3 linked regions of the Homo sapiens genome follow. The protein of the gene in region 2 interacts with the protein of the main gene of each other region in a pairwise test. Each region holds a gene or a part of one and is shown on either strand. Other genes may lie near its edges.

What was found.
Region 1: the proteins of GOSR2 (region 2) and TMCO5A interact in binary tests that used the Homo sapiens proteins (3 or more experiments, as listed by UniProt).
Region 3: the proteins of GOSR2 (region 2) and TMEM106A interact in binary tests that used the Homo sapiens proteins (3 or more experiments, as listed by UniProt).

What each region holds. Positions count from the first base shown.
Region 1 is NC_000015.10:37,941,139-37,944,793, forward strand, and holds part of TMCO5A (transmembrane and coiled-coil domain-containing protein 5A), read left to right. Parts: intron 1-10; coding exon 11-67; intron 68-532; coding exon 533-592; intron 593-1,052; coding exon 1,053-1,117; exon of another isoform or gene 1,118-1,149; intron 1,150-2,202; coding exon 2,203-2,260; intron 2,261-3,655.
Region 2 is NC_000017.11:46,929,660-46,933,314, forward strand, and holds part of GOSR2 (Golgi SNAP receptor complex member 2), read left to right. Parts: intron 1-1,439; coding exon 1,440-1,548; intron 1,549-2,407; coding exon 2,408-2,540; intron 2,541-3,655. UniProt on the Homo sapiens protein: Involved in transport of proteins from the cis/medial-Golgi to the trans-Golgi network.
Region 3 is NC_000017.11:43,214,798-43,217,785, forward strand, and holds part of TMEM106A (transmembrane protein 106A), read left to right. Parts: intron 1-990; coding exon 991-1,144; intron 1,145-1,651; coding exon 1,652-1,792; intron 1,793-1,899; coding exon 1,900-1,943; intron 1,944-2,461; coding exon 2,462-2,515; intron 2,516-2,883; coding exon 2,884-2,988. UniProt on the Homo sapiens protein: Activates macrophages and polarizes them into M1-like macrophages through the activation of the MAPK and NF-kappaB signaling pathway.

The sequences.
Region 1 (3,655 bases), on a different chromosome or scaffold from region 2:
CTTTCTTTAGGTTAAGTTACAACAGCTGGAAGCTTCCTATGCATGCCAAGAGAAGGAGCTGCTCAAGGTAACAGCAGGAACTTCAATGTGACTTCTCCCCAAAAAGGGAAATGTGATCTTTGGTCAGGCAATCTATTTCTCAAGTGATTGATTTACATTAAGGTTCCAGATCCAAGACCATGATGGGGCTAGGGAGGGGTAAAGAAAAGGAAGATAAGCACAATCCCTGAGGTTGCTTTCTCTTCAAACATTTTTTTACAGAATACACTCTACAGTTTGTATCTCGCAAATATTAGTTATCTATCTATTCCTCTCCCAACTGCCCCCAAATTCCACCTTTGACCAATAACTCCCATTTAGCTTTTTTACCCTAAAAAAAGGAAATACATTTATCTGTACAGCAAAAAAGAAAACATATTTAGAACAATTAGAAAACCACATTTAGGACCTGGGACCCAAGAGAAAACAAGTATGCTTGTGTTCTTATAGCAATTTACCGAAATATATTTACAACTAAATTTTGATTTCCTAGGTAATGAAGGAGTATGCATTTGTGACCCAGCTCTGTGAAGATCAAGCCCTCTACATAAAGGTAGAGCTTCTTGGTAAAGGGATAGCAAAGGGTTTATTAAGGTACAGGATGAAATAGAACAAGGATTTTCAAAGACTACTGTCCAGAGCAATTTCAACAGTTCAAGGTGGCACTACTAGGATACTTTAAGGTCATCAGCACCCCACCTCACTATCAATATCACTCTATTTGTCTTTGTCTCCCTGGGAATTCCTGCCCTGCTCTCCCACTCTCTGTGCTGTTAAGTTAATAATTCACACTTCTGCTATTTATAATGTCAATGATGCCCAGAAACCTGTCCAGTGGTAAGGCATAGTGAGAGATCAAGAGTAGTAGGGGGGTGAGTTTTATGAAAGCAGAGAAAGTGGCAGTGGGAATACCAAGCATTCATGGTATCATGTAATAACAAGTGCTTATTATGCTTAGAAAAATTGTAAACCTTCTAAGTAGTAACTGTGGCTTTCTTTGTTTCTCTTTGAAGAAGTACCAGGAAACGTTGAAGAAAATAGAAGAAGAACTAGAGGCTCTGTTCCTTGAGAGAGAAGTGTGAGCTTTGGCAAAGGAACATCCTGGTTTTGGTAGAAACTCCATCTCAGCCTGAGTCAGAGCAAACAGTTCTCAGACCAATTTCTATTTGGAATTGAATGAGTCCCGACGCCACATATCTTTGCCCTCTGTTAGTGATCTGGTTGACCCCAGTAGATCACACCAACTTAAAACTTCCAGTCATTCTCCCATCCTTCTAAAAAGACCACAGAAACACATCTCCCTTCGTAATGTTATCACATTATCACATTATTATTCGGGTTGATATTAAGAGTAAAAACATGTACTTTAGAAAGAGTTGGTGGTCAGTCACCTTGATAAGTAGGGTATTCCTTATATATCACAGAAAGGCCTTTTCATTAATACCATCCTCACTTCCCCCAAATATATGGACACCCAACCATAAGGGATAGGCATGAAACTAATCTCTAGACTCATACTACAGCTACCACATTATATAAATCAGAACTGTACACTGTATTGAACTACGAACATTTAAAATTAGAGATGGGAAAGCACTCCTCAAAGTACAATGAGTTTGTCAAGAGTCTAAATGGTGAGAAATCCAAACCAAAAACCTCATCTCCATTTCTTGACCCCCTCTGTAAGTTAAATCTTAATGCAGTCAAGAAGTATTTCTATTTATGAAATATTTTTAAATCCTTAGATCAAGAACAAGAGATCAAAACTGCATATAGCCTCTCTCTATATATATATAGTCCAGGGTCCTAGGACTTGTAGGTCCTTGCCCCTAAAGGACACCTTCAAGTCACTCAAGATCCCTGCTGAACATTGGTTTATGGCTTAACTGTTAAGCCAAGATTCTAGAAAAGGTTGCCCAGTAGAATTTTCTGTGCTAGTTAGTAGGTAAAACTAACTACATATGGCAATTGAGTACATAAAAGATGTACTCAACTGAGGAAATTAATTTAACTTTAATTAATTTAAATAGCTATAGGTAGACAGTAGTTACAATATTGGACAGTACAGATTTAGAATATAAAGCTTTTTTAAAATAACCATAGTGTAGTATGAATATTTCAGTGCACTTTGTTCAATTTCTGTCCTGGCTGTTATCTTCATAGATCAAAACTCGTGAGCATGAACCCTGTGGAAAAAGAGCATACCAGCCAAAATAATGAGGTAAACACTCCATTCTCTCTTCAGCTCCTCACAGTGTCATTGCCTTTCAAAGCCATCTCCAGCAAACTATAAGGCACCAAATATATACCCAATCTTGCCATGCGCATTTTCCAAGAACAGTACCAGCTATAATTACAGAGCATTCCAACCCTAAACAAACAAACTAGACTCTAAGGAACAATCTACTTTCTTCTCATTCAGCCATACAAATAACAGGCTCTCAAAAAACTAGCCGAAGACCTAAGAGAACTCAGAATGGAGGCAAGAAGCAACCTTAATTGAGGGTATGCTCTATAGAAAGAGGCCAATATAGGGCACATACACCACCTCTTCCATCTCCTACAATCACAGTACTCTTTCCTGATGATCTTGACATGGTTCCTAATCTCTCACAACACAGAGCACCCACCATCTGTCATCATCTAGTCAGAATTGGCCTGTGAGTTAAAACATAGAACGCTATTGCTTCTTTGTGACAGAGTTTCAGTGTCTGTTCATATTTAATATAGCAAAGCCACCAGCACACATGTAAAGGTCTGAAGGAAAAGAACAATTTCATACAGAGCACCAATCCTCTTGGCCTGCTTGATGTCTTGTGGCAGCAAGGATAAAAGGTTAAAGTTAAACTTTGGTTGGGCTTTAATTTTGTAATTTATATTGGCTTTAGAGTCCAGGTTGACAAACATCAGAAATTACAGATAGTCAAGATAAATACTTAGAAAAGAGAACTAAACACTTCCTTAAAAGCAAATATCAAATATTGGCCATTGTGTTTGGGTCATCCAAATGTTTGGATATATGTTAGGCCATGTCCATGGTTCTTAAGAGTACTGAACAAGTCATTCTGGCCCCGAAGCTTGCATATTCTGCTTAGTAAACAAAATCCCTGAAATTAACTCGACCCACTTCTGTAGAACCAAGTTTTTGACATCTCCAATGTGTCCTACCATCTCTCCCCACAGCTCATCAAAATATTCCTTCTAACTATGTGTCAGAGGAAAAAATTAAAGTTGTCTACATCAAGCTCATCAGGGTCCCATGATGGTTCAATGACCTAGTGATGTCTGAGCAACTTTGGAGACAGGATGCCTGAGAACTGACTGTTTGGCAGGCCATGTAATCTTACTCAAACTATAGATCAAAATTTGTAATCCTAAAAGTTTCTTTCTAATTCAAATTCTGTAAGCCTCTTTTCCACAGCTCTAATTTTTTTTAGTAGAAAGATGAAGTCTCACTATGTTGTTCAGGCTGGTCTTTAACTCCTGGGCTCAAGGGTTCCTCCCACCTCAACCTCCCAAGTAGCTAGGACTACAGGCACCCACCACCATGCCTGGCTGGCTCTAAAATGTGATCATAATTCCTCTTTTTATCTCACAAGGAAGGTTAAAGGACAAT
Region 2 (3,655 bases):
CTCTGCCTTGGGGGCTTAATGATTCAGCGTGGAATGAGTTTTGTTGTTAGGGTGGACAGAAAAACCCTATGGCAAAGTCACTGATTTCCCTGAGTGTGCCCTTTGGAATCCCACAAGTCTTATCCCCCATTACCCCTCCACTCAACCTGACATGGCCCTATGGGAATGGAAGCGCTTGCCTCCATCTATCTTAATCTAATTACCTAGTCCTTAGAGGAATGTACTCCATAAAAATTCAGAGATGTTTAACTGGAATTGGCCATTTCTTCTGAGCTGAGAACTGTGGCTTTTTAGGAGGATTATTCAGAAACGAACAGCAATATTAATTAGTTTAGTTCCCACAGCATGGTTTCTTTTGAGAAGCATGCTGGTTTTTTGTTTTTTTTCATTTTTTTTTTTTTTTTCTATTCTGAGGAAAGGTCCTTTTTCTGAGTTGGTCATATGGACACCACCTGCGGGGGCTGCCTACCCACCCCACTGCTGGGCTCCCTCAGGACCCATTCCTCCTGTTCTCTCATGTCTCCTTTCGCAGCTTCAAAAGCAGCTCTGTTCTTGGTTCTGTGCCCCACCTTGTTCTAATCTCAACTGTCTTTGTTCACTGTGGGCACAAAGGGCTAGGAAGGGGCAGTGTCACTGCTGTCACTTCTTTATGGGGCAAGAAGCAGTCTGGATGCTTTCTTTTGTGCACAGTTTAGCTTCTTTGTTCATCGGACTTTGTTTGCCTTCTCAGCAATCTCATTGTTACATGATTAGAAATGGAAAGAGGTCATTTTGACTGTCTTATCGAAAGGGATAGGGAAAATGACCGTATTTATCGTATCTCTTTACCTCTGTGGATTCTTTCCTGGGCCTTTCCTATTGATATTTGGTTTATTTTGGGGACGTCAACATTGCTCAGCCCACCCATTCTTACAGAAAGCTTTAAGGGAAGAAAGCCTTAAGGGAACTCTTCTCTGTATGTTTCACATACTAATCTTCCCCTTCCTTTATGCTTTTTTTTTTTTAAATAAAAAAAAAAAAACTCATTACTATAGGGAATTCAATTGGCAGCCTTTTTCTAGGTATTTATAATCCACGTCTGAGAATCCCAAAGGAAAAGAGACCTATATCAGAAAATTTAGCTTAAAGTATTTATTTGGACAACCTTTGCATGTTTATTTTCTAAAGGTAGGAAATTTATTTCTACAGATTTACCTTCAGCTTTTTTAAAAAATTGGCATTGTTATGTCATTAACAGCTATATACATGTACTTTTTTCAAAACAACATTTACGGCCTAACTTGAATTTTTTCTGTTATTCATTAGTGTATACATTTTTCTCCTTTTGAAATATGTAGTTCTAGTTTATTGGATATTGAAAAAAAAATCTGTGATTTATCATTGTAATTTAAGTTCACTATCTCTTTTCCAGCAATTATTCTTTTTTCTTTTTTGTACAGTAGTAGAAAACGAAATCCAAGCAAGCATAGACCAGATATTCAGCCGTCTAGAACGTCTGGAGATTTTGTCCAGCAAGGAGCCCCCTAACAAAAGGCAAAATGCCAGACTGTAAGTGCTGACCTCTGACATGGCTCTGATACTCCAGGCCCATCAAGACAGGCTTTTCTCCCTGGGGGAGGTGATAGAATATTCTGAAAACCAACGTACATGTTGAAAAACTATGACTATGCAAAGAAAAAGCCCCCTCAAAGGGCACAATTCTATCTGAGTGATGCCGCTCAAAATAAATAGCCTGTGAGGTTTGTGACTCAGAAACCTTGTGACCCCTTACCTCTTTGGTGTCATTTTGAAATTTTGCCTCCAGTTCTGTTTTTTGACTAGATCCATAGCCACCTGAAGCCTAATGTTGCCATGGAGTTTTGTTCTGCTCTTTGGTTCCTGCTGGGTTCTTCTTGGGTTGAAATGAAAAATCACTTCAATCAGTCCACCCATAATGAAATGCTGATCTAATGTTTGATACTCCAGCATGAAATTAAAATGAAACCACCCTTGCCACCTCCACCCCCAGCGCCTGTTTCCAAAAGTTTTATGAAACTTTGTGGATGCTTTACCTCAAAGATGCCCTTGGGCTTCTTCCAGGAGAGCCATATAATCCATAGAAGGTCAAGAAGAGGTCAGTGAGCCTGCTTCCTGTCCCCTGTTCTCTGTCATGCATCCAGAATCAGAGCAACAGATTCTGAAGTCAAGCTGCTGGAATCTTGTGTGCTACCATCTCACTTTAACCACAAGTTTCTTCTTGACTTTCAACATCGTTGATCAAAATTAGATCTTGTGGTGAGGGGGTATAGTGTGGGGTGGTGTAGGGAGAAGTAAGGAAACGCCGTCTTTCCTCAGTACAAAGCCTGGCCCCCTCAGATTCTGCTGCCCTGAGTTCCTGGAATTTAATCTCTCTCTCCATCAATTCCAGTCGGGTTGACCAGTTAAAGTATGATGTCCAGCACCTGCAGACTGCGCTCAGAAACTTCCAGCATCGGCGCCATGCAAGGGAGCAGCAGGAGAGACAGCGAGAAGAGCTTCTGTCTCGAACCTTCACCACTAACGTAAGCCAGGCCCGTGGTGAGGGTCGGCCTGCACTTGACAGATCGTGGGGGCTGGAGTTCAGATCTCTGAGCGCCATCTGTTTTGGGGGTGTCTGAAGAAGACTGATGATGAGGAAACCAACTGGAAATGACAGGAACTTTGTGCATTGCCACAGAGACTAGACCTAGACAGAGAATCCCTTTTTCTAAGACAAAAACCTGAAGAGGAAGCAGTTAAATTGAAGGGGAATAGGCAGAGGTGAAAATTACCTGGTTGGGCTGGTCTGAGACAGAAAGGTGGAAGTTCACATGGTGGAAACGTTTTTCTGATCAGATAGAGACAGATGATTAGAACTTAGGCCATTTGTAGAGAAGGCAGCATTTCAAAGCTGCCTGCGGGCAGTTGCCATTGTGCCGAGTATGTGTGTGGCTCCAGTGTCAGGTGCATTAAGATGTTTTTGCCCCTAGTCTGAGCAGCAATTTGGAGGAATTTGTTAACAGATGTTTAGGGTTAGATGGACTGCTTGCCTGAGTCTGTCTGAAAGTGTGTTGGTTTGCATGTTTGATTTTTCAGAACCCATTGTCCCTGCCCTTTAGTCTTAACCAGATCATTTCCTGCACATGGCTGTAGAACATACTGGCCTTTTCTGTGTCCTGCATAATATATTCCACTAAATGAAGTGTGCTTTGGCTTTTTGTATTTTGTTTTTTTACAGAGGATTATTTTCTAAAGAGATGTTAGCTTTCTAAGCCAGTTGTTAAAATTCACATCATTTCCTGCTTTGTAGATGTTTAACCCTCAATGCTGCATCCTTGCTTTGCAATAAATTTTCCCAAGTGTTTCAGGCTGTGCCAACATAGTTTTTGCTTCCCCAGACTAAGCAGTCAAGTTACAGTGTTTAACAGTTCAAAAATTTAATGAACTATAAGACACACTAAAAGATGTTTGGATTTTAGATCGTTATAATGTAGTATTCAGGCCTTTTTTAGGCCAAGGATGATCGCTTGGGATTATTTTGTTTTTTGCCAGCCTGGCGTGATGCTGTGCACACCGTCAGTTCTTAATAAACATTGACTTGCCAGATGAAACTTCTTCCTGGTCATTCTACCATATGGAGCTATAATACATTTTTCTG
Region 3 (2,988 bases), 3.7 Mb from region 2:
AAAAATAGAAAAATTATCTGGGCGTGGTGGCAGACACCAGTAATCCTAGCTACTTGGGAGGCTGAGGCAGGAGAATTGTTTGAACCCAGGAGGTGGAGGCTTCAGTGAGCCAAGATCATGCCACTGCACTCCAGCCTGAGCAACAGAGCGAGGCCTCATCTGAAAAAAAAAAAAAAACAAAAAAAAACCCTGTAATCCCAGCACTTTGGGAGGCCAAGGCGGGCAGATCACGAGGTCAGGAGTTTGAGACCAGCCTGACCAACATGGCAAAACCGCCTCTACTAAAAATACAAAAATTAGCCGGGCATAGTGGCAGGCACCTGTAATCCCAGCTACTCAGGAGGCTGAGGCAGGAGAATGGCGTGAACCCGGGAGGTGGAGGTTGCAGTGAGCCGAGATCGTGCCACTGCACTCCAGCTTGGGCGACACAGCAAGACTCCATCTCAAAAAAAAGAAAAAAAAAAGAAATTAGCAGTGCACATCATAAGATACTAACAAAGTACTATCTCTTTAATGCATATCTGAATTTTGAATTGGATGGATGGTGTCCTGTTCTGAATGTTAAAATTCAGAACTTCCAAATATGGACTTATTTCTTCTAGTGATAATAACTAGCATTCATTGTGCTTTTGCCATGTGCAGGGACCTGTGATTAGTATTTTTTCATATATTAGCCGATAACAAATTCTGTGAGGTCAGTACAATTATCTGCCTTTTACCAACAAGGAAACTGAGACTTAAGGAGGCTAAGTGGGCTGCTCCATGTTATTGGGTCAATGGGAACAGAGATCTGGGAGTGGAAACCAGGCTGCCTGCCTGCCAATCCTGTGCTCCTACTCATTCCGGGCCACATCTGGGGAGCTAAATGTTGTTGGGGTAGTGTGCAGGGGAAAGCTTTGTATATGGAGAGGAGTGTCTGAACCCCCTCTCCGAGTTTCCTTGGTGTTCAGACTTTTCCATTCCTCCATCCTGGGTCCTGCTTTCCCACAGGAAGCTCTTTGTGTTCCTGGCCGTGCTCATCTGCCTGGTGACCTCCTCCTTCATCGTCTTTTTCCTGTTTCCCCGGTCCGTCATTGTGCAGCCTGCAGGCCTCAACTCCTCCACAGTGGCCTTTGATGAGGCTGATATCTACCTCAACATAACGGTGGGTGGGTGCCCTTGGCTCCAAACCCCCCTTCCTAGCAATACTTCGCTGTAACCTTTGTCCAGTGTTATGACCCTGGGCATGGGAAGCCAGAGATCTTATGGCACCCAGAGGGTGTTGGGAGCCTGAAGAGAAGTAGGAGCAACCATGAGCTCCATGACAGATGGTAAGGATTGGGACTCTACACAGTAAGGGGTCAGAATCCGGGCCAGATAAGTAAACCACAGGGGTGGAGTGGGGTGACAGTGCCTGAGACTCTCTGGATGGACAGGACTGAATGGAAAGAAGCTGTACAGGATGGACCTGGATCCTGAGGCAGCTTAACTTCGTAAAGTTGACCCCTCACCATTCAATGCCCCTCCAAGGGGCTCCCAGTTTTCATCCTCTGCACCTGAAGCTTGTCATGGTAGATGGGGCTCAGGCCAGACAGCCAGGCTTTTGCAACTGTTTGGCTTTTCCTAAGGATGGGCCATCTTCACTCCTCCCTTCCCTTGTCTTCATCCCCAGAATATCTTAAACATCTCCAATGGCAACTACTACCCCATTATGGTGACACAGCTGACCCTCGAGGTTCTGCACCTGTCCCTCGTGGTGGGGCAGGTTTCCAACAACCTTCTCCTACACATTGGCCCTTTGGCCAGTGAACAGGTGACTCCCCTCTCCCTGGCCAGCCCTGCCCACTGGTGTGTGGATGTGTGGTAGTGGGAAAGGGGCAGCTGGAGTTGGGGCTAACCCTGTGCCCATTTGGTTGACAGATGTTTTACGCAGTAGCTACCAAGATACGGGATGAAAACACATAGTGAGTACCCCTTGATCTCTTCTCCCCTAGCCACTTGCCTGGCTTAGGGACCCAATTAATACCCACCAGCTTTCCTGATTGCTTAGCAAATTCTTCAGCCAGCATCTGGCCTGCCCTCCCATGGCCGAGAATGTAATAAGCAAGGGTTCAGGGTCCCCAGCCTCTGCTTGTTTGGACCTTGATTAGAATGAAAAACAGGCTGGAATTTGGTTAATCTTTACAATATGTGACCTTGGGCTCTTCAGCCTGCATTGCTGAGGAAGAAGAATGTTTTGTCTGTCTCCTGAATGGGGGTCCAGCATGTGCCTGGGCCAAGTGAGTGGAGGTCAGAGTGATAGTGCAGCCATGCTGCTACACTCACCTGAAGGGTGGGAAGGGGTGGGAGTGACATTTTGGGGGCACCTGATGGAAGGAAAGAGTTCTGTGGGGTAAGGAAACTGGGACCTGCAGGCATCTTCTGAGCTGACAGGCTGCTCCATGTGACACGTGGTCCCACGTTCTCTTTTCTTCTCTCTCAGCAAAATCTGTACCTGGCTGGAAATCAAAGTCCACCATGTGCTTTTGCACATCCAGTAAGTAGAGCTTGGAGCTCTGGTATCCCTGCTCTCACTTCTGACTTCATTCTCACTCAGCTACACCTCATGGGCAGAGAGTCTTCCAAGCTGACCCCATGAATCTTTGTTGGCTCTTGGGAATAGCAAGTCTAGCCCCTTTTCTGAGTCTCACCTTGCCTATAAGTTATTAGGGGCAACAGGCATAGGGCTGTCTGGAAGCTGCTGGAAAACAGGTGGGGCAGCTGTCCCAGGTACCTTGGCAGAGTGGGGAGCCAGAGGGAAGGGCAAATGAGGGAGCTCCCCGCTCCCCACCCCCAGACAGTATAATGGGGCCAGAGCTTTCCTTTTCCTCCCAGCCATGGCAACAAGGCCTGCTTCCTCTCCAGGGGCACCCTGACCTGTTCATACCTGAGCCATTCAGAGCAGCTGGTCTTTCAGAGCTATGAATATGTGGACTGCCGAGGAAACGCATCTGTGCCCCACCAGCTGAC